Linked DNA regions of Homo sapiens: region 1 is linked to region 2. A link means that fine-mapping ties the variant in region 2 to the plasma level of a protein whose gene starts in the linked region. Region 2 holds a variant in brackets. A gene starts in the other region. All regions are shown on their forward strands.

Region 1 (2,856 bases), not on the chromosome of region 2:
TGTCCCCTCTTCCACATGCTCCTTAAAGACAAGAATCATCTGATTAGTCTCCGTGTTCCAGCAACCCCCTGGGACCCAGCAACCGGTAATTAGGCAAGGAATAAGCTTATTGTATGTTTCACAGTTTTTCAAAGATGATTTGGGAGAATCAAATCATACCATCATCATTCCACCAATCAGGACTCGGCACTCTGACAGTGCACTTTGATGTTTAAAAAAAACAAAAAAACCAAAAAAAAAAAAAACGCCATTGGCTTCCCTCTCTCCACCCAACTTAAGAAAGAAGTTATGAATGTGAACTTTCAAAGGCCAATTACTACCCCTTAGAAGAACCTACCATCTCTAAACTACAAAGATGGGCAGCCTGGATTCTATTATTTTTATTATTTTACAAAATTCTTAATTTTTAAATACACATAGATATAGGGTCTCGCTAGGTTGACCAGGCTGGTCTTGGAACTTCTGGCCTCAAGCAATCCTCCCATCTCAGCCTCTCAAAATGCTAGGATTACAGGTGTGAGCCACCGCACCCAGCTGGGCAGCCTGGATTCTGGCTCTTATGTAGTCATGGTGTAGGGGAGGAGGTCGTGGTGGGTCCGAACTAGGGGGAAACTTGGTGGGCAGGCAACCCAGCCCCTGCCTTGTACGGACCCAGATACTGAGGCCCACAGAATGACAGTGCCAGCTCTAGGGGGCTGGAGGAGAGCCATTGCTGGAGGTAGCTGTTCTCAGTAGGTCTCCCTCTTGGTCCTCACAGCGTCCTCGGGGACAATGATTTTTGTCATTAGGAACCAGATCCCATCACAGCTTGGCTTTACGTACAGTGAAGGTGTCATTCCTGGCTTAACCTTACACTGCCCCGAAGGCCCCCTCCCCAGCTGTCCGTTTCCAGCCTGGCAATGGGACTCTCTGAGCACGCCCCTCATCTCCTCCCCCTCTGAAAAGTATCCTCAATCTCCCGGTCTATATCTAATAACACATCTGTCGTGCCTATATTTTGGTACCTGATACGTAGTCATTCATTCATTCAATGAGAGAACATTTAATGAGAGGTTAAGGGGCTTAGAACAACGCCGGGCACAGGCTAAGCGCTCACTAAACGTTAGCTCTCGCCAATAACATCACTGATTCACTATAAAGTTTCTCTGGCTGTGTGCTATTCGCTGCGTCCACAGCAGTGAAGAAGACAGACGCAGCCCCTGACCAACCTCGCCAAGCCCGGGCGCCGAGCCAGGACGTTGAGCCAAGTCCCCATCTCCTAGGACTCGCAGTGCGGAGGCTGCGGGCCCCGACCAGCGCCGAGACTACAAGTCCCAGAAGGGCGCGCGGCGACATCGCCGGGCCCGCCCCCCGCGCACGCGCGGCGCCGTGACGCTAAGGCCGCGAGCGAGCGCGGGTGGCTGCGGCGGCTGCGGCCGGCGGGGCGGGGCGGGGCCACCTGGCAGTGGCTGCCTTTAGGGCGGAGCCGGCTCCCGCTCTCCTCAGTCTGCGGTGGGCTAGCGGACGGTCCGGCTTCCGGCGGCCGTTTCTGTCTCTTGCTGGCTGTCTCGCTGAGTCGCGGCCGCCTTCTCATCGCTCCTGGAAGGTCCCGAGCGCGACACCATGTCGGAGCCCGGGGGCGGCGGCGGCGAGGACGGCTCGGCCGGATTGGAAGTGTCGGCCGTGCAGAATGTGGCGGACGTGTCGGTGCTGCAGAAGCACCTGCGCAAGCTGGTGCCGCTGCTGCTGGAGGACGGCGGCGAGGCGCCGGCCGCGCTGGAGGCGGCGCTGGAGGAGAAGAGCGCCCTGGAGCAGATGCGCAAGTTCCTTTCGGACCCGCAGGTCCACACGGTGCTGGTGGAGCGCTCCACGCTCAAAGGTGCGGGGCCGCGGAGGGCAGGGTCGCCAGAGCCAGGCCTCGCGGAATGCAGGGCCTGCCAGGTCCTCCGGGGTCGCAGATGTCCCCGGGATGGGAGGAGCCCGGCAGCTGCAGATGACCCCTGGATGGGCAGAGCCCGGCGGCCGCAGACGTCCCGCCGGCCGGGTCCCCAGGGCCGCAGACGCCCCGCAGAGGCCGGCGCGGCGCCCGGGGCTCGCCCTCGCCACACCCACTGCCCGGCCCGGAGCCCCCAGGGCGCCCCGCTCCTGGTCGCGGGGAGGGGAAAGGGGTCCCCGTCTGCCGTCACCCAAAACAATGGGGTCGCTTTGTCTGCTCGGGCCTCTCAAGATGGCCGAGTTGGGTGGAGACAGCGTCTCCCTGGGCTGAGAGCGGGCGAGGCCGCATCCCTGCCTCCAGTGTCACATGAGCTTTTCGGTTTCGATTTGTGTCCAAGCCAAGTGGCCTTCGGGAGGGATGTGTCGGGGGCAGACCCGCGGAGCTGGGGGCAGCCGGGGTTCTGGTTCGGGAGGAGGTCGGGCGGGTGTCCCAGCCCTGCCTTGTGGGGACCCAGAGGCCGAGGCCCACAGAGCGACGGTGCCAGCCCCGGGCCTGCGAGCATCACTGTTGTAGGTGGATGCTCTCACAGCATCCTTGCTGAACGGGTGTATCCTGATTTTACACCTGAGGAAACTGAGGCTCAGGTTAAGTGATTTCACCCAAGGTCACCAGCTAATCTTAGTCCTGAGACTAGACTCAGTGTCTCAGCTCCCCATCCACTGCTTGTTTTCACTGATCATACCTCATATTTGTTTAATGCTTCGATGATGTTAATGATAACCCTGTAATATTTGAGTCTAATTTTACAGATTAAAAAAAAAAAAAAAGATTCAGGTTAGGCACCTAGTAGGGGGAAGAGGCTAGAGTTAGCGTGTTCCAGCTGTCTCCTCAAATAATGATCGCCCACCAGCAAGGTTACATTCATCTAAGTCTGGGGCTTG
Region 2 (2,907 bases):
AGGCGGAGATTGCAGTGAGCCAAGATCGCACCACTGCATTCCAGCCTGGGTGACAGGGCGAGACTCCGTCTCAAAAAAAAAAAAAAAATCATGCACATGTGGAAGCAAATGCCTTTCCCTTCTCATCTGTGGGCTTTGTCTGAAAAAGAAGCCAGACACAGCACATCTCCTATGCCATCTTGGGAAAGTGTATATATTCCACCCTCAAACAATATTTATTAGTCCCTGCTGTGTGTGTGTGTTTGTGTGTGTGTGTTTGTGTGTGTGTGTGTGTGTGTGAAGGCCTGTGCTGAACTAATCTGCCTCACTCCACTGGTGTCCTTTCTTGCCTCATCCGATACCATACTCATGCTCAGCCACTATAATTACACCCTCGTGTACACCTTTTATTCTTTCATTTAATTCATTGTCTATAGTTCTGGATAAAGTAAACATCCACCTGCCATACAGGAGCTTCTGTGAAGTTGAGGGAGTGAGACAAGCAAGAATAGAACCTCTTTAAAATGTACAACCAACAAACTCAGTGTGCCCTTACTGCTGGAGAGCAATCATTCTGTATTTCCCTTATAAACCAAAAATAAAATTCTAAACCCCACAACTGACTGAGCGGACTCCTCCTTTCAGCCAAGGGGATTTCAAAGAAACCTAAAAATTCTGGTTCAGATCATGATGGGAAGAGGGGGTTGGACAAACCTCATTACACTCTCCTTTCTTCAGAATTCAGGCATAACTGAGCAGCAATAACATCAAAAAAGAGATTTTAAGGCTGACGAAACAGACTCTGTAGAAATAAGCTACCAAATTCTAACCTGACTCTAGTATAGCATCATGACAGACAGCCGACCCTGAAGGAAATGGAAATATTTTACCACAAAATATATTTATTTGTCATATTTAAAATGGCCCTGCAAAGCTGTCTCTTGTGGGGGAAATCTACATTCTGCGGAGAATCCCTTTCCCTCTCCAGGCCTTTGTCTGATCCTCAAGAGATTAGCTGAAAGTCTAGCACCTTTTAAAGGTCTCAATAGAACATTTTTCCCATCTGCTGCTTCTCAGGCTGGCAACATATGAGACTTCATCTACATCATAAGAACCTTGGTTTCCCCAACCCCC[C/T]TATCTTAACCCAGATTCTCCTTTCTATTGATTCCAGGTCTTCAGACAATAACTTAATTCTTTCAACCAGTTGCCAATCAAAAAGTCTTTGCATCCACGTATGACTGTAACCTTCCCCCATTCTTGGAGCTGTCCTGCCTTTCCAGACCAAACCAACGCATAGCTCACACGTACTGATTGATGTCTTATGTCTCCCTAAAATGGATAAAGTCAAGCTGTAACACAACCACCTTAAGCACATATTCTCAGGACCTCCTGGGACTGTCACAGATCATGGTCTTTAAATTTGGCTCAGAATAAACCTCTTCAAATATTTGTTACAGACTTTGGTTTTTATCAATACCCGTATCTATTCACTCTTCCAATCTCCTAAGTGACTATTTCACTTATGTTGCTCTCTTTTCGAACGTCTAGCACATCCCTGTTGCTCTGTACCCTCAGTAAGAGACTTATTTCACTGGAAGATCCTGAAATCCTTCAGTGGAAGTATCCACAAGCTCAGGCCACTAAATTCTGCCATCGACTACCTTTTGTTCCTGTGCACCTACTCCCTACACTTCCTCTGAGTAAACTATCTGTGTCCAAGTCTAAGGCAAATCCTTCCACCTGGGCATTAGGCGCCATAACCTCCTACACACTGGAAAGGTATTGCAGGTGACAGAGGCAAAACTATTCCTATCCAAAAGACTCAGGAGTGTTGAGCTGAAGAAGACGAACACACAGGGGACCTGCCCCTTCCTCTGCTTTCCTGAAGGCAGGACCAAGATTTACAAAGACAAAGGTCTTCCTGCCTCCCCTCTGCCTCTTCCCACCTGAAGACAGTCTCCTTTATAATGCTTGCTTCTCAGCTCAGACAGCAACGCCAGGGATCTCGGAACAGACTACTCTTCCTGTAAATTTTCCTTCCCAAATGTCTTGCTTTTGGGAAGCCTGAAGATGCCGTTTTTTTTGTTTTGTCACCGTAGAGGATGTATGGCTCCTTGCTAAGATACTATTTCAGCAAGGCCTCAAAGCCACTGCTTCCAAACCGTCGCAACAATCTAGGTGAGCCGTTTTCCTGAGAGAGCTGCTTTCTTTCTTGTGGATGGGCATGACATGCATAAATAAACATGCTTGTTTTTCTCTTGGTGATCTGCGTTTTGCTCATGAAAATCTGTCCTAGCAGTGAATTTAATGAAAGTCGAGAAGAGAAATTCTTTTTTTCTCTCCTTCACTGGGTATTCTCAGCTTCATGCCTGAATCACCCATGGTGCCCTTTCTGCCAAAGCATTTCCTCAGCATGTCAATGGGCTGGATTTCTCTCCCCCACTTTAAAAAGACAAAACAGAGAAGAATGTCTAGAGGCTTTGCTGTTCTCTGAATACTACCTGCACTTTTCTGCTCCCTTTTCCCGATGCTTTCCCTTCTGGAGGGCACTGTCCCTCCCTGCTGCTCCTCGTCCTCTGCCTTCTTGCTCGCTGGAATGCACTATGATCAGGATGTTTTTCTTGCCACTGCCCCAGACGGCGCAGCTGTGCTGGCATTGCCCTCCAACCACCCATCGCATTCCCGATCCTCTTCATCTGTGGCATCATCGCACCATTGATCCCTCCCTCTTCCTGGATCCACTGGTCACTTAATATCCACAACTACATACTCTCTTAGATCAGCGACAGCCCTGGTTTTTCACACTTGTACAGGGCTTCGTGTCTTTCAATCTACCTTCATTTCCTTCACAGTTTCAGGCAGTCTCTTGACTTGAATGCTGTCACTTTGCTCTCAGCCCTCAAATTTATGTCTCAAGCTTGAACAGAA

Which allele goes with the higher level. Positions count from the first base shown, and alleles are read on the strand shown. Strength reflects both the effect of a copy and how common the allele is.
In carriers of allele C in region 2, the plasma level of the protein whose gene starts at base 1,484 in region 1 tends to be higher than with T alone (moderate association).

Evidence for each region. PIP is the chance, under the fine-mapping model, that this variant and not a neighbour inherited with it causes the effect. Protein levels are from antibody-based Olink assays in UK Biobank. Linkage for the fine-mapping came from a reference panel and not from the study's own genotypes, which makes the PIPs less certain.
Region 1: it holds the start of DYNC1H1, and the variant in region 2 is fine-mapped to the plasma level of the DYNC1H1 protein (UK Biobank, PIP 0.92).

What each region holds. Positions count from the first base shown.
Region 1 is chr14:101,963,090-101,965,945 of GRCh38, forward strand. DYNC1H1 (dynein cytoplasmic 1 heavy chain 1) reads left to right here and starts at 1,484. Exons shown (of 78, transcript NM_001376.5): 1 at 1,484-1,858. The coding sequence starts at 1,603. RefSeq lists enhancers at 1,037-1,176, 1,221-1,831, 1,832-2,441 and silencers at 1,317-1,476, 1,967-2,176.
Region 2 is chr1:247,842,622-247,845,528 of GRCh38, forward strand. No RefSeq gene overlaps it. Among named protein-coding and RNA genes, the nearest start is that of OR11L1, 2.2 kb to the left of the region's middle. The variant C/T (reference allele first, on the strand shown) is at 1,114.